7 linked regions of the Homo sapiens genome follow. The protein of the gene in region 4 interacts with the protein of the main gene of each other region in a pairwise test. Each region holds a gene or a part of one and is shown on either strand. Other genes may lie near its edges.

Region 1 (4,810 bases), on a different chromosome or scaffold from region 4:
AGAGTGATCTCCAAACTTTTCATTTGCCTTAAGGATGACGCCTCTGTGCGAAAACACTTTAAACTCTCTTTTAGAATTTCCTTCAAAATCTACAGCATTTTTTCCTGAAAAACCCTTCACTTTTAGGTCAAAGTTTTATTCGCCCAACTGGGTACCTAACTCCCACTGGTCTCAGTCTCCCTAAGGGAACCTTCCTCTACCCCCACAATCTTAGCTGGCTCCCACAACACTCTCTCAAGGCCTCATCAACTCTCCCAAGTGCAAAAAGCACCACACCACCTCAATGGTTTCTCAGGCTTAAAATGTTTACTTAATAAACCAGTGGATTCTGCAGGCCAGTGCTGCCTAACGCAGCACCCACGAGCCACTTGTCACGTCTGAGCACTTGAAATGTGGATAGTATTACAGAGAAAATGTTTTAATTTAACTGAATTAAATGGCTCTGGCCTGACTGGCAAGAAGGTTAAGCTGATTACTTGAAAAATGAACTGGTGGCCGGGGGCGGTGGCTCACGCCTGTAATCCCAGCACTTTGGGAGGCCGAGGCGGGTGGATCACCCGAGGTCAGGAGTTGGAGACCAGCCTGAACAACAGGGAGAAACCCCGCCTCTACTAAAAATACAAAATTAGCCGAGCATGGTGGCGCATGCCTGTAATCCCAGCTACGCGGGAGGTTGAGGCAGGAGAATCGCTTGAACCCGGTAAGCGGAGGCTGAGGTGAGCCGAGATAGTGCCATTGCACTCCAGCCTGGGCAAGAGAGAGACTCAGTCTCAAAAAAAAAAGAAAAACAGAAAAAAGAAAAATGAACACCTGTAGATATACATGTGTTTTTAAAGCAATATTACTTCATATATGAAAACATCCTCTAAGGGGAACAGCAGACCAACTGTGTTTCCCAGAGGGAACACTACTCTTGAGAATTTTAAAAGACCTTTAGTTTGAGCATATCCTAAAGAATTCAAATTCTAGATTTTAACGCATTTCTGAAGACCCACGTGTGTACTTCTCTTGCGGGCACTTTGGCTAATTTTAGCTACTCCATATTCTACGGATTTGCAATTACGCCGCAATGGAAAAGTCTGGAATAAACACCTTCTCAAGCCAAGAAAGCCTCTCAAGTTTTGAGGCGCGAGCTGGGCGATAGGCTAGCACGTGGCGGGCACAAAATGTCTGACGGAAGGTCGGAAGAACGCACGCCCGCGACCCTCCATCTCGCAACCCCCGGAGCGGCCCACCCTCGCGGGCCCTCCGGGAAGGACAGCGCCGTGCGGTGGAGCCCGGCCCGCCCCGCGTTAGTGGTGACCTCAAAGACTAGAGAGCAAGGATTTAAAATGTCGAGCACACCAGGTAAACCCTGGTCGACGAATTCCCACAAGTTCGCGACTTGTTAACCACAGCCACCTGAGGGCACGAAACCTGGCCGCTCGCTTAGCCCAGAGCGGGTCGGGAGGCCCCGCGGGGCCGCCCTCCGCGGGAAAGCCACTGGCCCGCTGGGGCACCCGGCCGCGGCGCTAACTGGCCCGCGCCGGTCCGCGGCGGGGGGGGGGCTCGCGACGGCGGGCAGCCGCGCTAAACCCGGGAGACGAATGGGGCAATTCCCACAGGTCGGACCCACGCCCACGCAGCCGCGCCGCAAGAGGGCCGCCCTCAGGCCCCTACAGCCCGCAAGGCGCGCGGCCGACCGCACCAGGCCGCTCTCAAGCACGTGGGAGGCCAGAGGCCGCCCGGCCCACGAGCCGAGCCGAAGCCCGCCCAAAATCCCGCGCGCCCGGCGCGGGGCGGGGGCGGCCGCCTGCCGTTGCCCTTTTAAGAAGGGGGAGGGGGTCGGCAGCGCGCCCGCGACGGGATGAGTCGGCGGCGGCCGCGGCGCGCGGCTCCCGCCAGTGGGAGCCAAGCCCCGGCGGGGCGGGGGGAAACAGACCGAGGGCTCGGCGCGGGAAGAGGCGGCCGCCAGCCAGCGCCGAGGGCGGGCGGGCAAGGCCAAGCTCGTGGGCCGGCTCACCAGGCGCAGGGAGACGGGCACCCGCCAACATGGCGCTGCGGCGGCCTGTGGCGCGCCCCGGCTGGCGTGAAGAGCCGCCGCCCGCCCACACGGAGGGGCCAGCCTCCCGGGGCAAGGGCAGGGGCCCCGGGCGCCGCCGCCGCGGCACAGGGGGAAGGGCGAGGCCGTCGCCACAACGGTTGGCCTTGGTCGACCCGGGCTGCCCCTGGGAGGCAGGAGTGGGCAAGGCCGAGGGCGAAGAGGGAGCGAGAGAACGGGGGAGAAAGTTTTATTTTTGGGCTTGAAAAATGGCGGGAACCACGTCCTTTTTTCAAACTTGGCCTCGGGAGGGGCGGCGGTTGCGCCACCTCCGCCGCCCTGGCCCGCCCCTCCCCCGCTCCGCGCGCCGGGCCGCGCCCGCCCAGGCCTCCAGGCGCCCGAGGGGGCTTCTCGCTCCCTTCAAAAGAAAAAAGCCCCCTCCTCGCCCCACGACTGCTGACCTCGGCCGGGCCGGCGCCCACGGCGAGCTCCGGCCACAAGAGCCCCCGTCCCGCCCCACCCGCGCCCCTTCCCCGGCCGGCCCGGGGCGCGCGGAGCCCGGCCTGGCCCAGGCGGGGATGGCCGCGCAGCTCCTCGGCAGGCCGGGCCTCCGCCCGGCCGCGCATCCCGGGAGGCTGCAAACATGGCTCCCAGCGTTACACAACCCCCGCCTCCCTCTCTCGCCGCCGGCCACTTGCACACGCGCTCCCTCAGGGGAAAGACCCCGGCGGGCGAAGCGCTCAAAGTTTGCTTTCCCCCACACCGCTGCCTCCCCCCGGCCGCCCCAGGGGCCCGCGGGCGGCAAAGAGTTAATCCTCGCGCGCTCGCTCCCCCCTCCGCGCCCGCCCGCCTTCCCCGTCCGAGCCCACGAGCTGCGCTCTTCCCCGCGCCGGGGCCGGCGAACCCTCAGCCCGGGCCCCGCAGGTGGCCACCATTACATGCAAGTCATCGGGGGAGAGGGCACCCAGAGGGGTCTCTGCTTACAGCTGCCGGGGTCCGGTTCCTCAGCTCCAGGTGGATCCTCCTCTTCATGTCCATGTTCCCCTCTTCCCCCCTCTTCAAACTTAACTTTCCGCGGCGGGGGCGGAGGGGGGAGAGGCGTCCCGGCTTGCGCAGCGAGGGCCGTCGGAAGGGTTTGCTAGCGGCGGAGGCCGGCGGCGCGGTCCTGGGTGGCGGGCGGCGTGCGGGCAGGCGAGCGGAGCCCCCGGAGCCAAGTTACTCACGGGAGCGGAGAGAAACCATGGAGGGAAAAGGGGGCTGGAGCGCAGCGCTGGGCTCACTACCGCCGCCCCCGGCCGCGGCCTGCACTGCGCTTAAACCGGCGACGCGGCGCGGCAGCTGCTCGGCTCCACTCGGCCCCGCGCGGCGCTGCTCGGCTCGGCGGCCGCGGCTGCACCAAGGCGGGGCGGGGAGACTCGCGGCGGGCGGGGCGGAGGCTGGGGAAAGGCGCAGCCCGAATAGAGGAGCGACTTCCTCCCTCTCTCCGATTGCACGTGGGGCGGCTGATGTAAGACCTTTCTCGTGGGTGGGGGGGCTTCCCCGCCCCCCGGCCCCCGCCGCGCTGAGACTCCTTCTACCTCCGGCCCCACGTCGTCGCGCCCGGAGCTGGGCTTGCGGCCCGGGCTGGGAGGTTCGCGGGAAGGGTTGGTGGGAAGCTTTGCAGTCCGGCTGCGGGGGTCCCTAAAACCCAGTCCATCCGGGGAGGCTCACGGGGGCGGCCCGACGCCCGCGGAGGCGCGAGATGTGAAGAAGCCGGGGACAGGCTTTGACGTTCACCTTTTGCCTGCCACACAGTCTGGGGCCAACAGGCCGAACCCCGCTGCCTCCTTGGCAGACTGGCGTCCGTAGTGCCGCCGAGGATCCCCCCCGTCGGGACGGAATCGCGGCCGACCGGCCCTGGCAGGGCAGCTGGGGTCGCTTGCTAAGCCACAGAGCAGCCGAGCATCCCCACCCTGTTCAGGAGAGTCTCCCTCGGTTTTCTAACATTTTAATAGGAGCTAGAGAAGGAAACGATTAGCATTTCTAATAGGGCCTCAGGGTTTCCCCGCAGACTTTTTTTTTTAATCTCATTTATTCCTTAGGGCACCCCTGTGAAGTGTGTAAATTCTTGGTGGTCTAAGTTTCGCTGAAACCTGGCAGGCAGCCTTTGTCATGGTCTGGCCCAAAGGGTCCCAGGGGTTAGAGCACCAGATCGGGATGAGTGTTGTGCTTTGCAGAACACCGGGGAATGACGTTATATTCAGCGTACAATAAGTAAATACATAATGTGTCAAATCAAATACAATCTAAGAAGATCGTACTGACAAGAAGCACCAAAAACTAAGAACAATTTGTTAAAGAAAAACTTGAAATTCTATGTATTAACATGAAGTTTTATGGAAGTTAAGAAAGTGCCCCCTTTCCTATTTTACCTAAGTTTTAGTGGCAAACAACCCAAATTTAGTTGTAAACCAATTATATATCAGCTTTTAAAATACTGAGTGAGTTAACATTTGAAGATGAAAGTTTTAGAAGGAATATGGGAAAAGAAAAACTTTCTGGTAGTAGTTCCCTGACTCCGTTTGTAGTCTCAGCAGACGTCTTTATGACAAGGGAAAATGGAGACAGATGTTCTCAGGGTTACAAAAGGTCTGTAACTAAGGTTATGAGAACCACAGGGCTATGCAATGAGGGCTTTTACCAAACAAAACAAAACAAAACAAAAAATCGGTTTCATGAGCCAACAAGCGATTATTGAGGATCTGCTTTAAGGGGCTTGATATTATTTCTCTAATTCTCAGACAACTTTCT
Region 2 (3,247 bases), on a different chromosome or scaffold from region 4:
GTTCAGCTAGCCAGAAGCCGTCTGAATCCTGTCCTTTTGGTTTTGATGGAGGTTTTCATTCTGTAGGCGTGACTGATTAAACTGTTGTCCTGCCACTGGGGATCAAATTAACCTTCTGCCTCTTCCCGAATGCTGGGGGGGGGGGAGGGGCAGCTGAAAGCCCCAACCCTCCTATTCCCCAAACTAGAGCTACCTAGGTGCTGCCAGCCATGAGTCAACTCACTAGCATATAAAAAGACACCACTTTGTGGAGATTTTAAAAATTGTAGTAGTTGTATGCCAGGAAGCAGGGTCTAGGACCAAATATGTATTACACAATATCACACCTGTGCATACCAGCTCAATCAGAACACAAAATTTCAAAAATGATACTGAATTTTAAAAAAAAAAAAAAAAATAGAGTCTCTATCTCAAAAAAAAATTAACCTCATCCTGGACCTCCTGGGCTGGAGGCATCCTCCACCCTTCGGCTCTAGAGTAGCTGGGGCTATAGCTACATACAAACTTGCATACATTCATGCATTCACTCTTTTATTTTTGTAGAGAGAGAGTCTTGCTTTGTTGCCCCATCTGGTCTCAAACTACTGAGCTCAAGCAATCCTCCTGCCTCAGCATCCCAAAGTGCTGGGATTACAGGCGTGGACAACCGCAGCCAGAAACAATTTCCAATATTATCAAATACCTGGGAAGGAAGTGAACCAAAGATGAGCAAGACTTCTTTGGTGAAAGCTGCAAAACTTTATTGAGATAGTTTAAGTCAAATATCTAATATAAAACCAGCTTGCGTTGTTTCAGCTTGTCTTCATTTAAACTTGTGGTTGCTCTTCACCTATAACAGAAGCATAACAGGTGGGAACATTACTAGCAGAACTGTGTTTAAATGACATTAAGGATATGGAAAAGACACCAAAGTTTTAGTTTTCTACAATGGACAAAACCAGAAGCCTAAGAGTCACCCTTTTGCTTATATTCATGTAGACCTCTGAAGAGACTTTGACAACAGTCGTCCAAGTGTATGCATTAAAGATGTTTTTCAAACACACCCTGCTTTCTAGTGCTACAAGGAAAGCAAGACAGTCCAAGGTCCGAACACATTAAATGAAGTGAACCTACTAAAAAGGGGTTTAAAGTAGAAAGCAAACATTGTGCATAGTTTTACTCAAAATACCAGCACCACACAAAAATCCTAAGAAACAAAAAAGGAATTTACGAAAAATGTATAATTTTTGGCAAACACTCTTTTAATATTCTGGCTTGAATCTGTGGTCTGCATGCCAAACGGGCTCCTGGAAATGGTCTGAATACTATCTTGGAAGAAAACGGTTACTGTCACCTTAGGAACTGAATAAGTAAAGTGAATAGAAAGGCCAGCATTGCATTTGTTTTTACTCTATTGCGCAGAAGGGCAAAAATATTTATTTGGGCTCGTTTACCCTTCTGTGGTTTTTAAGGTACAGCAACCGTTTGTACCCAGTTTTCTCCTACCGTGATGTCAACATGAATCATGCCTCTTTTTACACTTGAAAGTATTCCCATTTGTATAATTAAGTATATGGTCGCATTACTCTTAAGCTATCACTATCAGTTTTGTCATCAATATGTGATAGCATTATGAACTGTGTCACACATGAACACATGGAGGGATACGGGAATGGAAAACAAGAGTAGGACAGCTGAAAAAGCCAAAATTTGTTTCTAAAAGTAAATGTTTCTGAGGGACAACTGGAAAATTTCACAGTTTCTTCCACAGGCTTTGTGATGCTTAATCAGGTATTACAGAAATAAATAATGCATGCCTTCCTAGCTTACCAACCATTTCATCCATGCTCTGAAAATCTTAGCGTTCAAGACTGTATTCACTTTCAATAAAGCCCTGTATTAAATCACTCTGTCTTGTTCATATTCCATGTTGTGCTTTTTCCGTTTCTTCAAGATTGTGTAAATTACTGAATATTCGTAGCTAATTTTCAAAACACCAATCTTTTCAATTTATGACATTTGAACTACTTTTCCTTATACTAATGATTCGTACCTGTCTTTTATTCACTACCACTTTCTTTTTCCTTTAAGTTTATTCTCTGGCTCTTTTATTGTTATTTCATAGTATTCTTTTCCTTTAACATGTAACGTGCTATTTATTTTAATAAGACGTGCATTTAAAGCTATGATCTCCCTAAGAATACAACTGAGGCTTGTTCAGTGGGCTCCTGGAAATCGTCTGAGAACTATCTTTTAATGTAAATAGTATAATGGAATGGTTCAGCAGGGTACAGTAAAAACACTTAGGTAATTTCTCCCTTAAACATGGGGTGCTTCCTTTAACTTCAAGAGGTATTGTAATTAACAGTCACCAATTTGGAAAATATGTGTAAAACATACTTGTGTCAACTACTCAGGAACTAGCACAGTGCTGTTGTTGAACTTCAAACCCTATCATCTAATGCCTCAAGGCAGAAACCTGTAATATGTAACCTATGGTATGGTTAGAGGTGACTCTACTATATGAGTCTTCAATCTAATTACACGAAGTAGTTCATGAAGACTGACGGGAGGGCAGGGAGCATGCTTAGCAGAAGCATCTTACACCCACCTTGGGCATCACTGACCTACATGCATTCTCTCTACTTCACTGGCCACAGAAACCTGATGATCTCCTGCCATTTTATCATTCAGTCATTCAAGGCTTCACTGCGGGAAGGCTTTAAAATGCAATTATTCTTTAAGAGACAGAGAACTCAGAATTTGGCAAAATACAAGAACACTCATACAGGGCTCCACACAGGAAAACAAACACCAAGCAGAGTGCCCGCTCATTTTCCTAGGAACCATGAAATCTCAACTCAGACACTATAATTGGACTGAAGCTGATTGTTATGATAAACAAATCATGAAGATCAGAATATCTTGGTCTTCTATCCAACAGAACCAGAGCATGTGGAAATTAGCAACGAAATGGATTTTAATCTATCTGATGTGCATCCACTCTTTTCACTAAGAGCAAGGATGCCTGTGGAATTTATACGATTCATCCAGACTCTCACAAATTATGGTAGAGCTGGTACTAGAATCTGCTTCAGGGCTCAGCATACTTCACACAAACTGGTATTACAAATGCATTATGTGTTTGTTAAAAGCAGAAATTAGAAAAGAATCTGAAAATTGTTAGCTGTTGGTTATACACCAAACTAAGAAAATGCTGTCACGTTTGATGATTCAATATGGCTTTGACCCAATTTGTTTCTGTATC
Region 3 (3,863 bases), on a different chromosome or scaffold from region 4:
GGATTAGGCCAGGCTTTTGCTCAGTGTCCCTGTTGGATGCACTTATAACAGGCTCCTGGAGTTGACTGTTGCCAAGTTGAGGAATTCTGTATGCCTTGGGAACCCTGTTGAGTGGCAGCTATCAGCATTTGATATTTAGCCTGGCCCTTTTTTAGGTTTGGGTTTTTTAGTTCTTCCTCTCTAATCTTATAGACCTTAAAGGCCACTTTGATTAAGTCTCTTTGGAGGTTTGAGGGCCATCCTCCACTTTTTAAAGTTTTTTTTCAAATGTCTGGGGCTGACTGGGAGATAAAGTGTAAATGGAGGTAGATTTTGCCCTTAATGGTATTAGGGCTTAAGGTGGCATATTTAGTTGTGACCTTTGAAAAGGCGGGAGAGGAAAAGAGCAGGGGCGACTTTATTTATGCCAGCTAGAAGGCATGATATCATATGGCCTGGTTTCTGCCTGTCTACAGAAGTTGCCTGATAATTCCGATTGAGGTCAGTTCTGGGGACAGCTAGGGTCCCTACTGGGTTATGAGCAGCATCTTGTTGGTGGAGGGTGTTCTCATGGACCTGGGCACCCGTAAATATGTGTTCCCTGTCCTCCAGGGTGAGGGTAGAGGAGAGGATGACATATATGTCATGCCAGGTAAGGTCATAAGATTTAGGGAAGTACAGACATTCCTTGAGGAAGGAGGTAGGATCCATTGAAAAGGAGCAAAGTCTCTTTTCAGTATGGGAGAAGTCAGCTAGGGAACTTGAATTCAGATTATGCCTTCAGTCCTTGCAACCTCCTGCAAGGGAAAGACTTTGGAAGGCCTTTGGGCATGTGTCTGGTTTTCGGCAAAAGAGCGTTGGGCGTGAGACCTGGTTTGAGGTGGAGAAGGAAGGGGGATGGAGGGTGACAGTAAGGGGGTGGAGGAGCCGGATCCGAAGGAGAAGGTGGAGGGAATGGGAGAGGGCAGGAGCCAGACGAAGGGGTTTGTTGGCCAGGTTGAAATTCAGAGGAGGAAGGCTTGTCCCGAGGAGGAGGCATTTTGGGGGGTTTCTCCTTGAGGAGGAAGATTTGAAAAGGTGAACAAGATTGGCAGGAGAGTGAGTGAGGCATGAGCGGAGATAAGCAAAGCACTTCAGATCATTTACCATTGTGTTGGAGAAAGATTTTTAGATGATGTTGAATTTGAAAGTTGAATGTTTTGTTTTTTAGAAGAGGGGAGTGAATACTCTGGATGGGAGTGAATACTCTGGGGAAAGTGAGTACCCCAGAAGGGAGTGAATACCCCAGAGGGGAGTGAGTTCTCCAGAGGGAAGTGAATACCCCAGAGGAAAGTGAGTACTGGATTCCACCTGGGAGAAGGGACCTGGAGAGTTGGGACAGCCCCATAGCTATTCATGCTCCCCAGAGGACGGAGCGGCCAGAATGGCAAGTGTTCTGAGGCTGTCCCCTGAGAAGGGAGGCTGCAGTCACCTGGTGACTGGGGAGACCTCTCACCCAGCACTGGAATTTTTTTGGAGAACAAGCAGAAATAGAAAGGAATCCAGAAAGGAAGAATAGGGAGACTCACCCACGAATTGAAGCCCAGTGTTGGATGTGATGTCCAGCAATGGGGGTGATCCTGGTTGCAGCTGCTTGGGAAGGGGAAGGAAGGAAAAATAAGATGGAGAGTTTGATCAATATCTGGAGGTTAGTCCAGGGCTGGAGAAGATGAGAGAATAGGGGAAACAGGACTGGGAACAGACAGTCCACTCAGGATCTGGAAGTAGGCCCCGGTCTAGTTTGTGCTGCTTGCTGCTTTCTGCTTTCCAGGTTGCAAGAGAAAACTTACCCATTAGAACCCAATCACCGTCCTGGGTTTTGGCACCAAAGTGTTAGGTTTTGAAGGGAAGATGAGGGTGAAAGAAAGACAGACAGAGAGGGTGCATCTCAAACAACAACACAGGAATATTGCAGACACCTGTGGAAGTGGGGGACCAGCTTAATGCCAGAGCCCACTGCCGCTTATAGCCTGGGGTACTTACAGGTATGGGTGGGAGGGAGCTGGGCAGTATGGCTTGCTGCCCAGGAGGATATTGATAAGATGTTCTTATGATCAGGTGGTTTGGCCCTTTTTCCAGTGGAATATCATTGTGGTGTTCCTTTGCAGCTGCCTGGAAAGGGGAATGAAGGAAAAATAAGATGGAGAGTTTAATCAATATCTGGAGGTTAGCCCAGGGCTGGAGAAGATGAAAGAATAAGGGGAACAGGACTTATGATAGGGATGTTTCTTTAGTTGAGCCTTTGTCCACCTTGTGGTCAGGTGGTTAGGCAGGATGTTGCTCATGGCCTGAACCCCCATGGAATGTTTCACTTTGACCAAGGTCTGCAACATAGCAAAAACTTACAAAATCATGCAGTTTGGACTAACAGGTGACTCTACCCATGCTCCTCTTCTTCTTCTGCATAGATACCTACCCTATGATTTCACCTTGTTCTTCTCTGGCACACACCCCTTCCTCCACCTGCATTCCTTCTCATAAAGCCCCCCTTGCTATCTAGTCTCTATCCTATTCACCCAAAATAATGTCTTTCTGGCCTCTCCCTATTTTCTTACCAGATGCAAGAGGTACCAAACAGAGTCTTAGCCCCCGAACAGAGTTTGAAGAACACAAAAACATCAGAATATCCAATAATATTTGTGTATTACCTCAGGAAGGGTAAGAAAATAAATTCAAATCAACTGGAGAATGAACAGTCCCAAGAGAACTCCATCAATCCAATCCAAAAGGAGGAGGACGAAGGCGTAGACTTATCTGAAGGATCTTCAAATGAGGATGAAGACCTAGGCCCATGTGAAGGACCTTCAAAGGAGGACAAAGATCTAGACTCATCTGAAGGATCCTCACAGGAGGATGAAGACCTAGGCTTATCTGAAGGATCTTCACAGGACAGTGGGGAGGATTAGTCACACATGGAGAAACCAAATTGGACAAATCATCACCACTGATGGCGATGATTACAATAAAATCAAGTTTAAGGAGCTGATGACTGTGTTTATCTCTGCCTGTTGTCTGGTGTGGGGTGGGGAAGGGAAGGGAAGAGGTAGGCATTTGAGAAGGGAGGGATATGAGGTCCTGTAGGTTGGGAGACGGACCCACAGGTTGACAGTTAGCCAGACATTGCAAATAAGGACTGGCGGAGGACTGATTCCTCAGACAAATTTTCTTCTTAAAATTTTGTCTTACAGGAGAGGAAGAAAAGGACATGGTGTTTCTTGGAGCATGTGATTGTGTAGAAGGGTGTACAAAAAGATCTGTATTCGCTGGGCATGGTGGCTCATGCCTCTAATCCCAGCACTTTGGGAGGCTGAGACTGGCAGTCACCTGAGGTCAGGAGTTTGAGACCAGCATGGGCCAACATGGTGAACCCCTGTCTCTACTAAAAAATATATAAAAATTAGCCAGGCATGGTGTCAGGCACCTGTAATCCCAGCTACTTGAAGGCCAAGGCAGGAGAATCGCTTGAACCCAGGAGGTGGAAGTTGCAGTGAGCCGAGATCACGCCACTGCACTCCAGCCTGGGGGATAGAGCAAGGCTCTGTTTCCAAAATAACAAAAATTAAATAAAATAAAACAAAATAAAATGACCTGGATTGTATTTAGGTGACAGTGACACTCTTTCCAAAATGAAGACATCAAAATCACCACCTCCAGGCCACATACATCATAGTGGCATGGGTTATGACTCATCCAATGCTGTGAGCAACTGAAGCCCCTCAAACGGATCAAAAACCTCACCCTACATAAAGTAAGACATCATGTCACACACACTAAAATAATGGTGCTTGGAGGCCATGGTCCCAATACTAGGGCATTTCCTTGTTAAGAAACTCTAGGTGGAGCAG
Region 4 (4,242 bases):
ATATGGGTACATCCCATTTTTTTTGATATACATTTAAAATAATTTCTTATGTTGATTTACGTAACAGTATTCTAATGTTTGAGCATATATCTTAGACTATAAATTTTAATTGTTATAGTTTGTTCCATTTTTGTTGAACGGGAAAAACTGATACATATCTTTAAAATTGTATATTTAAATTACCTTACATATGAGGAATTTTTATACTTGAAAGTTATTGTTATTAACTTGTTTTCATAATGTGAGATATTCTGTCATAAAGCACTTATGTTTTAAGTTGTAATTTAAAATACCTTTCTTTTTAACATGCACACAGGAAACCTCGACCTGTCTCCCAGTTGGTTGCACAGCAGGTTACTCAGCAGTTTGTGCCTCCTACACAGTCAAAGAAAGAGAAAAAAGATAAAGTAGAAAAAGAAAAAAGTGAAAAGGAAACAACTAGCAAAAAGAATAGCCATAAGAAAACCAGGTAAATGTGAAGAGTGTTTTATGACATTTTTGAAATAATAAAACCATTTAATTTTTTTAACCTTGACATACTAATATACACAAAGTGGAAGTAAAATATTTGGTCTCCTTTATTATAAGGTATCAGGAAAGGTTTTACTGAGTTTGAAAGATACATAGGAAATTAAACACAGAAGCCAGAAATACAAGCTTAAATGTGATGATGCTTTTTTCTTTTTACGAGATTGGAAGACATTTGTGTCTGGATTTGTTTTGTTTTGTTTTGTTTTTCCCTTAAGAAGAGCTATTTGAACCAGGAGTGGTTTTCAACATACCGAACAGATAATTGCATGGGTTTTAACCTATCAAAATGGTCATGCGTTCAGTCATAACAATCATGATACCCTTATTAGTGTGTGTCAGTGGAGTAACAGTCTTCCTTGCATATAGCTCAACCTTAGCTTTTATCACCTTCCTCCATGGTGCAACTATTTCATTGTTGTCTAAAACATCTATTTTAATAAAATTAATAAGCTGTCTGCAAAATTATGATACAGCTATAGAAGCACAAGTTCTACTTCTAGGCTGTCACAGTTTTTTGGTTGCATTGAAGAATGTTCATGAATGATTGGTTTGATTAATGTTAATGAGTTGAAACATTTTATGATGTTTTTGTGGCTAGTTACACATAAATTGCCTTAAATACATGTATTCATTTTGTTACTTTTACCACTTTTATTATTTATTATATGCTCAGAAATTTGGTAGAGGGAAAAGCTAGTTTAAAATTTCATTTTTTTATGTTTAGGCCAAGATTGAAAAATGTGGATCGGAGTAGTGCTCAGCATTTGGAAGTTACTGTTGGAGATCTGACAGTCATTATTACAGACTTTAAGGAGAAAACAAAGTCACCGCCTGCATCTAGTGCTGCTTCTGCAGATCAACACAGTCAAAGCGGCTCTAGCTCTGATAACACAGAGAGAGGAATGTCCAGGTCATCTTCACCCAGAGGAGAAGCCTCATCATTGAATGGAGAATCTCATTAAAGTTTATTTTCTCCAATTTCTTAGTCACTTCTGTCCTACCATGCAAATACACAGATTATGCCAAGAGGTACCACATTTTCATGACAGATACATTCATGCACAATCCATAATTTGAGTTTTACATAAAATAGAAATTTGTTAGAATTTGTTAGATTTTATTGCAATGATGCCTACCAAACATTTCCAGACTTAACATTTTGGTCTCTGCAGTTAAGTGCCATGAAAATGTGGTTGAATTATTCATTATGCAGTGTTATTGGTAAGTGTATTTTCACTTTTAGTTTAGTGAATTCTAACACATAATTCTTGAATTCTCTACTATTGGCATGTAACGAATTTAAATTTTTTATAACATAGTGCAAGCTGCCTAAATATGTATTATTTGAGAATTGTGAAACAGATAGTTATATGTATACAAGTCAAAGAACAACTTAACTATTGCTGCAACAGGTTTTTCTTAATGGTTATCCTCTTAAATACACCTGCTGGTACTTGGTGTGGTTAAATAGGAAAATTGTTATTAAATAAAGAATTTGTATGAACCTTTGCCAATGTTTTTGACACGTTTTACTAATTATTGTTCCTGAATTATGTTTCTGGTTTTATCTATTTTTTGAGGTTTTTTTGTTTGCTTATTTTTCAAAACATTCATTTATTGTAATGTTTACTAGCGGACTAGTAAACAATAAAACATTGATTATTTAGCTTTATAATTCAGGTTTAGTGCTATTGTCATTGAACACTGGTATTTTCTGTATCATATAAAACATTAAAATTCAAATAATTATAAGCATTTGGCAAAAACAAGAGAAAAGAAACTTGCCATATTTTACAAGCTGCAATTTTAGAAAAGCTTTAACTTAATGATAGTTTTATCATTGTTTTCTTGTCCCAAACTTATCCAGGGCCATAGAAGTATGAATCTAATTAAAACAGAAATGGGAATTATTGCACAGAAATGGGAAATAACTAATTTTAAATCAGTCAAATTGGCTTCTTATTAAATACAATAATTCTTATGAAAATCATAGTACCCTATTTTCAGACACAGCTGCCAGTTTACACATTTCTCAGTATCCTGAAAGGAAAAAAGTATAGCCCCACTTATACTATGTAAAATTACCAATAAAATATTTTTATGACTACAGATTTTGCATTTTTGTTTACAACTATTTAAAGAGTTTTATGTTGTATTTAGAATTTCAACCTAGAAACCACACAGTACTTAAATTCTCCTGGGGTCTCCTGCTTTCTCTTAACCATTTGCTTAATATATATCTACCTAAAGGAGACTTCTGAATTGTAAATGAACTTAAAAATAGAATGTGGATGCAAAATATCACATAAGACATCATGATAACATTTGAAGAAAAAATAAAACTGTAGACCCTAACAGTTGTGATATTTGGTGGTTTCATGTGGTAATGTAATTTTCTGTTTAATTACAGTACTTTTTACAGGCACAGTGGTACTGTCTTTTTTGTAAGATGCTAGTTGTGAAATACAATTAATTGCATACAGTAAAAGTCTGTGATTAAAACATTTATATACCTCATTCTTTAGTGTTGTTAAATGAAAAATTAAAATTTGTGTTTATTATAAGATACTTTCAATGGAATACCAGCTAACCAGATATGTTCCTTTAAAACATGAATTTTTTTGTCTTATTCTGTTTTTAACATGTTTCAAATGTTTTATACATTTTTGGAGATAGTAAAAATTTAAAAATGTAATAGGGAAAATATTTAATTTTTAAGTCAAAAACTATGCTTTAAAGGAATTACATCTTATGATCAAATAACTTTCAGGATGTATTTTAAATGAGCTGCAAGAGAGAAAAATCTGACAGGAGATGGGATTTTACCTGAATGGAGCATACTCATATTTCTACATAGGTGGGAAGATACTCATCTTTCTACATAGACGGGAACACGGTGTAGCATGGAGATTAAGCGTGCTAACTGACACCTCATGTTTGAATCCTGTTGTAGAATGGAAATGAGCTTAAATTACCCAAGCTTACTTTCCATCTATAAAACAGGGCTAATAATGGTAATCACATCTAATTTATAGGGTTTTTGGGAGGATTAAGTCAATCCGTGTAAAATTCTTAATTATCTGACACATACTGGTCACTCAGTAAATGTGAGCTTTTACCATTGTTATAGGTAAAATCCCATTACAAAAATACAAAAATATTTTTTGTAACAGTTATTTTCCTGCCCTCTTGGATGACCTAAAGTAATAGTGTTTTATAGATTTCACTAAATTTTCAGTGTAATATCAGATGTTTTCTCTGGATGCAGAAAGACCATCTTTCCATAATTAAAGAACCTGGTGGGTGTGCACTATGAGATTGGAGAAATGAATTAAGTTGACTTGAAATTATTTTACTTTTATTAATCACAGGTATCTCAACCTGCCTTTGTTTCACCCTACTTCAAGTACACTTCCACACCAGGAAAACAGACCCAAATTCCATAAACAGAACTGACGTTAAAATATGCGAAAGATTCAGAACCTAGGTTTAGGGTACATGTTTTTCTCTGTTTCATGAACTTACAGTGTGGTTTGAGCACTGGGTTCTTTTAGCCAAATTCCATACAAAAAGAATTTGGATGTTTTCCAGCATTTATTACCTTACTTTGCTATAAGTAAGAGTGAAGATAGGCCGGGTGTGATGGCTCATGCCAGTAATCCCAGCACTTTGGGCTGAAGCAGGCAGATATTTTGAGCCCAGGACCAGCCT
Region 5 (4,242 bases), on a different chromosome or scaffold from region 4:
GAGTCTCATGCCTCAGCCTCCTGAGTAGCTGGAATTAAAGGTGTGTACCACTGTGCCTGGCTAATTTTTTGTATTTTTAGTAGAGACAGGGTTTCTCTATGTTGCCCAGGCTGGTCATGAACTCCTGGCCTCAAGTGATCTGTCCACCTCGGCCTCCCAAAACCCTGGATTACAGGAGTGAGCCACCATGTCCAGACATGGCCATTCTCTTTGCCAGTTGCCTGTTCATGTCCTTTGCCCATTTTTTCTATTGAGATGATTTTTTAAAATTTGGATTTCCAAGATTTTAAGGGTGTTAATTTCTTGCTTTATTTATTACATGTATAGCAAATTCTACACATCAGCGTGCCCCAGGCCTCAGTGCCTGGATTTCTTATTTTCTCTGTCCACATCCACTCCTTTAGGGGTCTCACCTAGTCTCATGGCTTGAAGTATTGTTTGTTTGCTGATGCCTCCACTGGAATGAAAGCTCCATTTAAACCCCGTGGGTGCAGCATGTTTTTGTCTGTTTTGCACACTGCTATATCCATAGAATCTAGAACAGTGCCTGGCACACCTAGTAAGCACTCAGTAAATATTTGTTGAGTGAAATGATTCTATTATTGTTATTTTTATTCCCATTTTACAGATGAGGAAACAGGTTTAGAGACAATAAATAAATTACCAGAGTTTTGTAGCTAGGAAATTGAACTGGGATTCAAAACCATATTCTTAACCTCTACATGTACTGCCTTCCTTAAATTTGATGTAATTGTTAGTGTTTTTCTGTATGTTTAGTTGAAACCTGCCTCTCAGTAACTTCCACCACAATATATATGTATGAATAATTGGGAATGAGCATAGTGTATATGAGTGTTGTTTGGAGTAAAACAGAGTACAGGGGTAAACTCTCTGGAAAGGTTGATGTTAAGGAGGAGCAGATTGTGACTAGATTATGGGAGACCTTAAGTATCCTCAAGAATTTTAACTCCATCACAATCTTTAATAGCAGAGACTCCCTATAGATTCCTAAGATGAATGGGGCAGATGGATGGTTTATTTCCCAACCTGTATTAAATAAAATTTTGTCTTCTTTTTCCCCTGCATTCTTAGAGGATCACTCATTTAATGTGTAGAAATGGTGTGGAATTTGTCTAACCTCAAACTCATGGCCATTTATTGACTCTTCATTGCTTTGCAGTCACAGCAGCTCCTATCTCCACTGCCAGAACTATATCTGTCAAGTGGAAAGATACTTAACCAGCTGGTTAGAATGTTCTCTCGCTTAAAAGGGGCTGAAGACACGGTGACAAATTCTTTTTTTTTTTTTTTTGAGACAGAGTCTCGCTCTGTTGCCCAGGCTGGAGTGCAGTGGCACAATCTTGGCTCACTGCAACCTCTGCCTCCTGATTTCAAGTTATTCTCCTGCCTCGGCCTCCTGAGTAGCTGGGATTACAGGCGTGCACCACCACGCCTGGCTAATTTTTTGTATTTTTAGTAGAGACGGGGTTTCACTTTGTTGGTCAGGCTGGTCTTGAACTCCTGACCTCGTGATCCGCCCACCTCAGCCTCCTAAAGTGCTGGGATTACAAGCATGAGCCACCACGCCCAGCCAACAAATTCTTATTATTTCTCTAGTCTCCATGAGACATCTTCTCTCCCTTAATATGCTCTTTTCAAACAGATTGCAATTTGATATCTTAACCAACAGCCATTGTTTCCTCAATTTTTTTTATGGCAGTTGGGCTTGAAACTTCCCAGATTCCTCAGATATACATTTTTCTACCCTCTCCTAGCTACAGATTATTAATCTCATTTAGTATTCTGTTACGACATTTAAATTTTATTTATCTATTTATTGAGACACGGTCTCACTCTGTTGCCCAGACTGGTGCACAGTGGTGTGATCATAGCTCACTGCAGCCTCGACTGCCTGGGCCCAAGTGATCCTTCTGCCCTGGCCTCCCAAAGTGCTGAAATTACCTCCATGAACCACCACAACTGGCCCATTAAAAAAAAATTTTTTTGAGACACAGTCTCGCTCTTTTGCCAGTCTGGAGTGCAGTGGCGCCATCTCGGCTCACTGCAACCTCCACCTCCCGGGTTCAAGCGATTCTCCTGCCTCAGCTTCCTGAGTAGCTGGGACTACAGGCGCACACCACCATGCCCAGCTAATTTTTGTATTTTAGTAGAGACGGGGTTTTGCCATGTTGACCAGGATGTTCTCGATCCCTTGACCTTGTGATCCACCTGCCTCGGCCTCCCAAAGTGTTGGGATTACAGGCATGAGCCACCATGCCCAGCCAAAAATTTTTAAATTAATATTTTAATGTTGTTATAGTATTCTATTCAGTATAGAAAAAAACAAAGCATACATAACCTGGCTGGGCATGGTGGCTCATGCCTGTAATCCCAGCACTTTGGGAGGCTGAGGCAGGCAGATCACGAGGTCAGGAGTTTGAGACCAGCCTGGCCAACATGGGAAAACCCCCTCTCTACTAAAAATACAAAAATTAGCTAAGCATGGTGGTGGGTGCCTGTAATCCCAGCCACTCAGGAGGCTGAGGCAGGAGAATTGCTTGAACCCGTAAGGTGGAGGCTGCGGTGAGCCGAGATTGCACCACTGCACCACTCCAGCCTGGGTGACAGAGCAAGACTCTGTCTCAAAAAAAAAAAAAAAAAGATACACAACTCTCCCCACCAGAAAAAATTCAAAAAACCCTCATCCTTCAAATTAACCGTTGTTAATTTTTGGTACATATCCTTCTATAACAGATTTTTAATTCATATGTGTGTATGTATTTCTGACAGAAGATTACCTTCTACATATTATTTTTAAATATTTTTTTCACCAACTAATCTCTTGGGAATTTTGAATTGCTACTTGATTTTTGTTTTAGCTTTTTGTTTTGAGACAAGGTCTCTGTCACCCAGGGTGAGTGCAGTGACATGATCATGGCTCACTGAATCCTCTTATCTCCCGGGCTGAAGCGATCCTTCCACCTCAGTCTCCCACGTAGCTGGGACTACTGGCATGTGCCACCATGCCTGGCTAATTTTTTTATTTTTTGTAGAGATGGAATCTCACTATGTTGCCCCGGCTGGTCTCAAACTCCTGGACTTAAGTAGTCATCCCACCCCAGCCTCCCAGAGTGCTGGGATTACAGGTGTGAACCACCACGCCCAGCCTCGAGTTTTTTTTGTTTTTTGTTTTTGTTTTAATTAATAGATTATATATTTTAGAACAATTTAAGACTTACGGAAAAATTTAGCAGATAGTGCCAAGAGTTCCCATTTGTCCCAGTGCACAGTTTCCCCTATTAACATTGTAGATTGGCCGGCCGCGGTGACTCACGCCTGTAATCCCAGCACTTTGGGAGGCTGAGGCGGGTGGATCACGAGGTCAGGAGTTCGAGACCAACCTGGCCAAGATGGTGAAACCCCGTCTCTACTAAAAATACAAAAACAAATTAGCCGGGCACGGTGGCGGGCTCCTGTAATCCCAACTACTCGGGAGGCTGAGGCAGGAGAATCGCTTGAACCCGGGAGGCGGAGGTTGCAGTGAGCCGAGATCGCGCCATTGCACTCCAGCCGGGCAACAAGAGCGAAACTCCATCTCAAAAAAAAAAAAAAAAAAAAAAAAAAAAATGCCGGGCGCAGTGGCTCATGCCTGTAATCTAGCACTTTGGGAGGCCGAGGCGGATGGATCACCTGGTCGGGAGGTGGAGACCAGCCTGACCAACATGGAGAAACCCCCTCTGTACTAAAAAAAGTATAAAATTAGCCAGGCGTGGTGGCGCATGCCTGTAATCCCAGGTACTCAGCAGGCTGAGGCAGGAGAATCGCTTGAACCTGGGAGGCGGAAGTTGCAGTGAGCCGAGATCGCGCCATTGCACTCCAGCCGGGCAACAAGAGCGAAACTCCATCTCAAAAAAAAAAAAAAAAAAAAAATTGATTCGTATATTTGTTACAATTAATGAATGAATACTGATACATTATTATTAACTAAGGTTGATACTTGATTGACATTTCTTTGGTTTTTACCTATTGCTCTTTTTCTGTACATGAATCCCATTTAGGATTCCACATTATATTTAGTTGTCACGTCTCCTTAGGCTCCTCTTAAGTGTGACGGGTTTCTCAGACTTTACTGTTTTTGATGACTGACAGTTTTGAGGAGTTGGGTATATTGTAGGATGCCTTTCTGCTGGAATTTGATATTTTTCTCTTTATTAGTGTGGGGTTATGGGTTTTTAGGAGGAT
Region 6 (4,242 bases), on a different chromosome or scaffold from region 4:
ACTTTTTAGCACATGTTCTGCTTTATATCATGGCTAGTTGTTTGTCTGCTTCTTACAAGACTATAAGAATCTGGAGGGCACAGATGCCATCTTACCTATCTTTAGATTCTGTTCTGCACCTAACACAGTGCTTTGTCTGTCGCAGGGCTTAAGTAGGCATTTAGTGGGACCAGGAATAGATGAAATCCACATCAGCCTGCATTGTAGTAGCAACTTGTATCATCAATGTGCACTGTACACGTATGCATAGTAAGCATAGTAAGTATGCTTACTTTTTAGAAAGTATAATTGTATTGTTTAAGTAGATTAGACCTTTACTATACATGTATTCATTTTGTGTTTACTATGTTTTGATGATAAGGTTTTATGATGTAAAATTGCATAAGTGATCTGTGACTCTGGTGTGTAGGCTTTTTATGCAAGAAGAAAAAAATGTAAATTATATATTATTAGTAAGCAATTTAAAAGTATTGTCAAGATAAATTTGAAGGAAACATGTAAACTCATTTCTTTTCCTCAATCAAGGCTTTTAAATATAAAATAATCTTTTGTTAAAACACACATTTTTGAAGTTAAGTCTTTGTTCTTTCCATTTTATTTTACAGATTTTTAAAATCTCATTTTGTCCATTTTTTCCTTTCTCTCTCTTAAGGAAAAATACTTTATGTCTTCCTAGATTTTTTTCTTCCAACTCTGTAAAAGAGCAGCTCTAATGAAATGTTATGAAACCATTTTAGAAAATTATTATAAAGATTTTTTTAAAAAGTCTAGTTTCCTTTATAATTTCTAGAGGAATCAAAACACGACAGTACATTGGTACTGACCTGCGAACAAATTTGGATGTGATTTTGCTTATTATACCAGTTGACGTTCCCCTTCTGGCATGTGCAAATGCACCCGTTTCATGGGATGGTGAAGCAGGTGGCCCATTATAAGCAACGCTGCGTCGCTCCCGGAGCTGTTCACCATGGAAAGTGCTTCGGCTTGAGCTCCCTCGGGGAAAACGGGTCCGGTCTGGAGTCGCAGTACTAATACTGTGAGCAGATGGGGAAGCAGCAGGCACTCTCTGGGTTGTACTGCTGGGACAAATTAAGATATATCATTCAGAATAATGACAAGAAAACCTTTCACTCAAGCTAAAAACTTGAAACAAATAGCTATGGCTACTTCTTTTGGCCCTACTTTATTTGTTCACATTAGAGATGTGAGACATGGGTTTGGAGTAAAATTTCAGTTTGAAATTAGGTACCTTTTGTTTGGTCACTAAAAATCAAGAAATGACTGAAACAGGGACACAAAGATAAATACTTTTCAGTATCAGGAATGCCAAACCAGGAGTACTGCAAATATTTTTTTAATATTCTCCTGAAACCACTTAGCAATGTTGAACACAAATTTTATTGTTTATTAAAAAGGCTTTGAATAAAATAATTTCCTATTTCTAATTTAGGCCTCAGTGATGCTACAATACCACATGGCACCACCAATATGCCTAACAAATCTAACAGAGGGTTAAAATGTTCAGATGTACTGAATTTGGGAAATCTTAAAATAGAAAAATACTAGAAAAACAATTATACAATTTTATATCTGAACAGGCTCTTTGAGTTCATCAGTTTCATTGACAGGAAAACTGAAGCCTGGTTTTATTAAGAACAAGGAATTGAGCCTGATCATTATCTGCGGGTCTCAACTCACAGTCTAGTGTTTGTTCGTATGGTTTAAATAATAAAAAAATCAATTTACCTAAATGACAAATTAAACAGCAATTTTTAACTTTATAGACGGATGTAAAATCAAATCCTTAAAAAAATTCCTCTAGAAAATGATTTAAGTTATATGCAACATTTCCAATAACAGCCAAAGTACATAGAAAGTTTATGTTACAATTCAATTTTTCCTCCATAACAAACACTGAATCTTATTAGAAAGGTCTTAATGTGATGGTGACTATCATGTATTTTCACATGGTGCTATATTTTTAGAAACTCTTAATGAACAAAATGAGATGTAACCAACACATTACCCAGGCCGGTAAGCTTCAGAGCCGTCTTTAATGGTTGGCAGTGTGACTTTAATAGGATGACCAGAAGTGGACATGGACTTCTGGTGGCGGGGTCGTGCTGAGGGGACAGCAGAGGCCACAGAAGAGCCTGCAGAAGATATGCTACTCACAGACATCTCCGTAAGGCTTTCACCATAAAGCAGTTGAGAAGACCATGGAAAAAAAGAGGAAAATTTGTGGTTTACTAAAATTTAAGAACTATATTTTAAAAAATCTAAACTGACTAACACCTTTCATGACTGAAACATTTGAAAGAAACTAACATTAGTGGCATTATTAATGACTAACAAAACAATTAATATTCTTATGAAAAGTATACAGGGTGAATTTATCACTATCATCTATGAAAAAAATCTCACACACACTATGTATGTAAATGTGAGAAAGTACAAAATTATTTTTGTGGATATACGATAGTTTCAGATAAAATTATTATGACTGGAGTCATTTTTTACTTCCCCAAAGTCACAGTTTGGTGTGATATGTTGCTGTAGTTCATTGTCCATTATTCATACAATCAGAATTGATAATTATACCAAAAATATTATCTCTAGATTCATCAAAACACTTTTAGATCATATTATGAGTCAATAGGTTAACTGTTGCAGATTAAAGGAGCTGCAGATTAAAATTTAGTATAGGAAAAATCATAAGTCTGAAATCAATTTCCAATTATCTTATGTCCAAAGAAGATACATTTTTCTTTGTATGCCTTACAATAGCACTTACTTTACATTCTTATTAAGTGAGAAGAAACAAATGTGAGAATGGGTTGTACACACTACTGAAATGACTGAAGGTGGTACTAAGAAAATAATTTCATTAGAATAGGCTCCATGTCTTTGTACTATATTGATGAGTAGTCCTTGTGACTCATGATAGAAAGAAGACACATCTTTTAAGTAATAAAAATAATATGATTTATTATTATTTGAAATAAAACACTTTAAAAATTATGTGGTTCTGAATGATGAGAAATAAGATGGTCACATTTTTTTCAGAGGGAGAAAAATAAAGCCTTTATTGAGATACAGCAATGACTTGATGGGAAGTGAAAGGGAAGGAGGCAGCAGGTGCATAAGAGAATAAGATTCAAATTATGAAGATGAAATTAGGATGGTATGATCTGCTTTGTTATAGAAAAATATTTACTATCAGATTTTACTCAGAAATTGGCAGGTAAAGAGATTTGTTTCTTGTTTTCTCTAAATGTTTTCCCATCCTTCTATCCTGGTACAGGAAAGATGTCTTACTAAGAACGGTTGGTTGCAATCTTACTATTTCATGTAATAACTGCTTTTCTCCTGACCCATTCGGCTGCAGGCATTTCAGCAAGGGCACTAACACAGAACAACAGCAAAGGTATTACTACTTGGCACTGTGGCATTTACCTGCTGTCTTTTCCATTCTGCAATGCTACGTATCGATCTGTGGTCCTTTCACAGACATATGTATTCCTTCTTGCCATGCTACCTCCAGAATACACATTGTTCTTCAAGAATAAAAAAAAGGCAATTAAAAAATTATAAATATATTTGTGGAAAGCCAAAGAAATGTATTTAAGCTGACTTTGAGAAAAATCCACAGAATTTTAATTGATCAGAATCTTATATTAACAAGATTATCCCCTGCCTCTCTCTAATTTAGATTTCAGAAGTAAAAGACAAAGCATCAAAAATGAACTCATTACAGTTTTAGCTTATCCTCCTATAATAGCAGCCAGCAGTTTGGAAGCAATAGGAGAGCTGGGTTTCTATTCACTCCCTCCTTTGTGAGCTGGTGGTAGAGAAAGGGCAGGAGCAGGGGTGTGAGCAGCTCTAAGTAACAAGGAGTGCAAGCCAACTCCACACTAAGTATCATCACCAACAGGAGCCTCGGGCAGTGAAGATGGCATGCCCACTCAGAAGCCAGTGGGCTGCCTTTCTTCACCTGCTTGGGAAACTCTCTCAACCACCAGGAATATTAAGCAGACTAAATGCCCCAGGATCAAAGGCATGTCCAGCTGAGGCCACCAACAGTGGTGTGTGCAGTGCCACCCTGAAGATATTTCCTCGAGTCTCAGGTTTGAGCTAGAAGGCAGGCCAAGTCTGAGGAGCCTTGGAGAGAAGAGAGAAAATAAGCAAAAAGGGATAGGCAGGTAATTCTCCTTACCATGCACACAACCTTTGACCTGTAAC
Region 7 (4,242 bases), on a different chromosome or scaffold from region 4:
TACCCAGCTTGAGACCTCATGTACTTGTTGCATTTGGATTTAAAGCTCATTTCCTATAGAAGAGCTGTAGAAATCAGTCATGTAGTTTCATAAACTCCTTCATGCTTGTTAATAATTTTCAAGAATCTTAAAATAAATTACAGGAATATTGTTATGAAGTAGTAGAAGCAGTATGGTATAGGGGAGAAAGTGATTGTAGTTGGGATCTGAGGATAGTCTTTACTTTGCTATTAACTAGCTGTGTGACCTTGGGCAAGTTGCTTATCTCTGCTTCAGTTCCATAAACTAAGAATTACAGAGCTGAACCGGATCTTGGAAGCAATCTAGTACAAACCTCTCATTTTACAGATGAGGAAGCAGATAATTTGCACAGGCTTTCACTGTAAGACAGTTGGGCCCAAAATTCAGTTTTCTGACTCTCAGGTTGGTTTTTTTTTTCCATTATACTTTACAGCCTCTTTTCATCTGTAAAATGAGAGCATTGGATTAGAGGCTCTCAAAGGTCTCTTCCAGCTCAAAAATATTGTCATTCCTGTGACATTAGTCGTAATATAATTTATTAGGGGAAAGTTTGTAGCTTTTATTTATTGGTGAAAGAAATGTTTCTTGAAGAGGCAGTATAACCTTTGCAAGGTTATATTTTGTTTTTTTAAGAGAATATCATCAGGCGAGGTGCTATGTCTCAGGCCTGTAATCCCAGCTTTGGGAGACCAAGGCAAGAGGATTGCTTGAGTCCAGGAGTTTGAGACTAGCCTGATCCTGTCTCAAAAAAAAAAAAAAGTTAGCTGGGTATGGTGGCATATGTCGGTAGTCCTAGCTACTGGGGAGGCTGAGGTGGGAGGATCCCACCTTGATCCCAGCAGTTCAAGACTGCAGTTGATGCAGTGAGCTATGATCATGCCACTGCACTCCAGCCTGGGCAACACAGTGACACCCTGTCTCAAAAAAGAAAAAAGAAAACATCTTCATTAATACCAAAGGGTATTTAAGTTTATGAGCATGGTAAGTAGTGTGATAGGTAGTCTTGTTTTTTGTAAAACACTTATTAATATATTAATAATATAAATTGCGTAAATAACAGTGTGATACCCGGAAGTGAAGTAAGTAGGTGATTGTTCCTCAGAAAATATTGCTGGAGTTTATTTTATCTGGGACCCCTGTGTCTGCCCCTAGTTAAGTGCCTGTGTTGTTTAGTGTCTCACAGGATTGTCTGTTTCCATAGCATCTGCATCATGCTACTTTTATTATAGTTTTATTTATATTGTCTACTAGACAGAAAGGTCTTGAATTCAGAGACTATATTTTGTTCATTTTCGTATTTTCAGTGCACAGGAGGACATCCTCTACAGAGTTGGCACTCAACTAAAAGTTTTGTCAAAGGACTGTTTCACATACATCATCTCTCTATATATCATGGTATGCACATATTTCAGACCCAGGAAGATGCTTATTTTAGTAATTCTTAAGTGAACTATATTTTAGAGGGTGATATGGATAACAGTAACAGTAATAGCTAAAGTTTATTGTGTTCGCACATGTTAATTCTTATATCTCATAACTCTGAGTTACATACAGTTGTTATTCCCATCTTCAGATGAGAAAACTGAAGCACAGAGAAGTAAAGTGACTTACCAGTGTGACCTAGAGTAGTACATGATGGGGATTTGAACCAAGTTGGTGTATTTTAATCACTAGGATATATTGCCTAAAATATGAAAATTTGGTTTTTAGTATTTTAGTAGTTTTTCCTAAGCAGATTTTAACTTACTAATCAGACTTCCAGGCTTATTCATTTTACTTCTAAACTTTTGTTAACTTTTTTTTGCATGAGTTTTTATACACGTGTGAAGATAAGATTTAAAAAAATACAAAAACCCCAACCAAACAACCCAATTTAGAAAGCTGTACCAGCTGTGCAAATCCTACACTTCATTTTTTTAAGATAAGTTTTGTCCATTCATGGAAAATGTTAGAGATACATCAATGAAAAATTTTATTTCCATGTTAGATAATCTAATTTGTAATTCCATTTATCTTGATATTTTGGCCTCATAAACCCACTGGAGCCATAACAAGTAAATACTAGAATTTGAACAAAAAACTTCCCACTGTCAGTATCGGAGCAGTCTATTTATTGTGGAGGCTTTATAACCTGATGGACAAGGCTTTAAACTAAATTATAATGCTTTAGTGGCAGATCTTTGACTCTGTTAATAGTATTCAGTATGGGCAAGGGGAAGAGGATGTGCAGTCTAGCTAATCTGTAAAAAAGTATTTTAAAAAAATACTTAGTTTTAATTCTTTTATTGCTAACAACAACAACAACAACAACAATAACAAAACCTTTGGTAGCATGTATTATATAGCAAACCTAATTGAGAGGCAGGATTTGAATGGATTGATAGGAATTTATCAGTCATGGAGTGGAAAGATATGCAGAGCAGAGCAGATCCAGGTGGTAGGTTGTCAAACTTGAATTAAATTTTTCCAATGTGGCTTCATCATTAGGTCTGAAATTTAATGAATTTCAAGAAGGCAATTTAACCTGTATTTAAATAAAAGTGATTATATTCTACATAGATTCATTAGCCAAATATAAGTATTTTGGGGGGATGACTTAAAATATTTTTTCCTCTTCATCTATGTGGATTGTTAAGAATTGGTTATACTCATAAATTTGTGCTTTTCCTTGAAAACTAATTAGCTGGAGTAAATAAACTACTAGGTTTAAATTCTTGCTGTTAATATGATAAGTTGTGTGACTTCATGATTCCCCACTGGACACTTAGGTAAGTGCTTCCTATCTGAGGATGAATGTAGTTCCTCTGGTGAAGGTCAGAGGGGTTTGTGTGAGGCTAATCATACTCATCCTGTCTCCTAAGACCAGAGACATGTTTTACTTTTTTCCTTTTTTGATACTGTATATTTGCCTCATAAAAAATATAAAATTTCCCTTTTCCTTGCCGATTTCTTTTAAACATCTGTGTAAATATGTAGTTTAGTTCAACTTTGTATACTACTCTGTTACTTATTTCATTTACTTAAAGATACTTATTTCATTTACTTAAAGATACACATGGCTGGGCGCGGTGGCTCACGCCTGTAATCCCAGCACTTTGGGAGGCTGAGGCGGGCGGATCACGAGGTCAGGAGATCGAGACCATCCTGGCTAACACGGTGAAACCCTGTCTCTACTAAAAATACAAAAAAATTAGCTGGGCGTGGTGGTGGGCGCCTGTAGTCCCAGCTACTCGGGAGGCTGAGGCGGGAGAATGGTGTGAACCTGGGAGGCAGAGCTTGCAGTGAGCTGAGATGGCGCCACTGCACTCCAGCCTGGGCGACAGAGCAAGACTCCGTCTCAAAAAAAAAAAAAAAAAAAAAAGATACACATATTTATTAATGCTGGACACTATTCCCGGCATTTGTAAATAGTAATTCATTTGCTTCTCCTAACAATCACATGAAGTCCTGTTATTATCCCGACTTTATAGATGAGGAAATTGAGGCATAGAGAAGTTAAGTAATGTATCCAAGGGCCAGGCACAGTGGCTCATGCCTGTAATCCCGGCATTTAGGGAGGCTGAGGTGGGCAGATGGCTTGAGCGCAGGAGTTCGAGACCAGCCTGGACAACATGGTGAAACCCTGTCTCTACAAAAATATACAAAAATTAGCCGGGCATTGTGGTGCACGCCTGTAGTTGCAGCTAGTTGGGAGGCTGAGGTGGATCGCCTGAGCCCAGGAGGTTGAGGCTGCAGTGAGCCGTGATTACGCCACTACACTCCAGCCAGGGCAACAGAGTGAGGCCTTGTCTAAAAAAAAAAAAGGAATGTACCCAGGCACACATAGAGAATATTTAGCAGAGCCAGGATTCAGACTGGGCTGAGTACATGCTCTTAACAGTTACACTATTCTGTCAATGTTATTTCCTTGAATGGATGCACTATAATTGGTTAACTACTCTTCTTTAGGTAGGATGTTAGTCATGAATCCTTTGGTTACACGTAATAACAACACGACTTTGTTAAGTTAAAAAATGAGTGTATTGGTTCACATACTGGGTATTGTATGTGGAGGGTGATGGAATGGCTTTGGAAACAGCTAGATCCAAGGTTGCAAGTAATGTCATTGGGTTTCTTTGTCTCCTTTCTGGGTTTTTCTAGCCTCTTGCTTCTGGAGCCCCAGACATATACCTTTAGCTTAGCAACCACACTTGAAAGACAGCTTCTCTTTCCTGATGTCCA

The links.
Region 1: the proteins of YAF2 (region 4) and ANP32B interact in binary tests that used the Homo sapiens proteins (3 or more experiments, as listed by UniProt).
Region 2: the proteins of YAF2 (region 4) and XAGE1A interact in binary tests that used the Homo sapiens proteins (3 or more experiments, as listed by UniProt).
Region 3: the proteins of YAF2 (region 4) and SPANXN3 interact in binary tests that used the Homo sapiens proteins (3 or more experiments, as listed by UniProt).
Region 5: the proteins of YAF2 (region 4) and POLR3GL interact in binary tests that used the Homo sapiens proteins (3 or more experiments, as listed by UniProt).
Region 6: the proteins of YAF2 (region 4) and MARK1 interact in binary tests that used the Homo sapiens proteins (3 or more experiments, as listed by UniProt).
Region 7: the proteins of YAF2 (region 4) and TLK1 interact in binary tests that used the Homo sapiens proteins (3 or more experiments, as listed by UniProt).

Annotation. Positions count from the first base shown.
Region 1 is NC_000009.12:97,981,804-97,986,613, reverse strand, and holds the start of ANP32B (acidic leucine-rich nuclear phosphoprotein 32 family member B), read right to left. Parts: upstream 3,274-4,810; 5' UTR 3,059-3,273; coding exon 3,005-3,058; intron 1,179-3,004; exon of another isoform or gene 1,093-1,178; intron 1-1,092. UniProt on the Homo sapiens protein: Multifunctional protein that is involved in the regulation of many processes including cell proliferation, apoptosis, cell cycle progression or transcription.
Region 2 is NC_000023.11:52,498,284-52,501,530, reverse strand, and holds the end of XAGE1A (X antigen family member 1), read right to left. Parts: intron 830-3,247; coding exon 807-829; 3' UTR 719-806; downstream 1-718.
Region 3 is NC_000023.11:143,507,876-143,511,738, reverse strand, and holds the end of SPANXN3 (sperm protein associated with the nucleus on the X chromosome N3), read left to right. Parts: intron 1-2,576; coding exon 2,577-2,924; 3' UTR 2,925-3,004; downstream 3,005-3,863.
Region 4 is NC_000012.12:42,157,840-42,162,081, reverse strand, and holds part of YAF2 (YY1-associated factor 2), read left to right. Parts: intron 1-316; coding exon 317-469; intron 470-1,255; coding exon 1,256-1,493; 3' UTR 1,494-4,242. UniProt on the Homo sapiens protein: Binds to MYC and inhibits MYC-mediated transactivation. Also binds to MYCN and enhances MYCN-dependent transcriptional activation. Increases calpain 2-mediated proteolysis of YY1 in vitro.
Region 5 is NC_000001.11:145,967,278-145,971,519, forward strand, and holds part of POLR3GL (DNA-directed RNA polymerase III subunit RPC7-like), read left to right. Parts: intron 1-4,242. UniProt on the Homo sapiens protein: DNA-dependent RNA polymerase catalyzes the transcription of DNA into RNA using the four ribonucleoside triphosphates as substrates. Specific peripheric component of RNA polymerase III which synthesizes small RNAs, such as 5S rRNA and tRNAs.
Region 6 is NC_000001.11:220,649,935-220,654,176, reverse strand, and holds part of MARK1 (serine/threonine-protein kinase MARK1), read right to left. Parts: intron 3,558-4,242; coding exon 3,457-3,557; intron 2,192-3,456; coding exon 2,027-2,191; intron 1,080-2,026; coding exon of another isoform or gene 1,077-1,079; coding exon 825-1,076; intron 1-824. UniProt on the Homo sapiens protein: Serine/threonine-protein kinase. Involved in cell polarity and microtubule dynamics regulation. Phosphorylates DCX, MAP2 and MAP4. Phosphorylates the microtubule-associated protein MAPT/TAU.
Region 7 is NC_000002.12:171,150,611-171,154,852, reverse strand, and holds part of TLK1 (serine/threonine-protein kinase tousled-like 1), read left to right. Parts: intron 1-4,242. UniProt on the Homo sapiens protein: Rapidly and transiently inhibited by phosphorylation following the generation of DNA double-stranded breaks during S-phase. This is cell cycle checkpoint and ATM-pathway dependent and appears to regulate processes involved in chromatin assembly.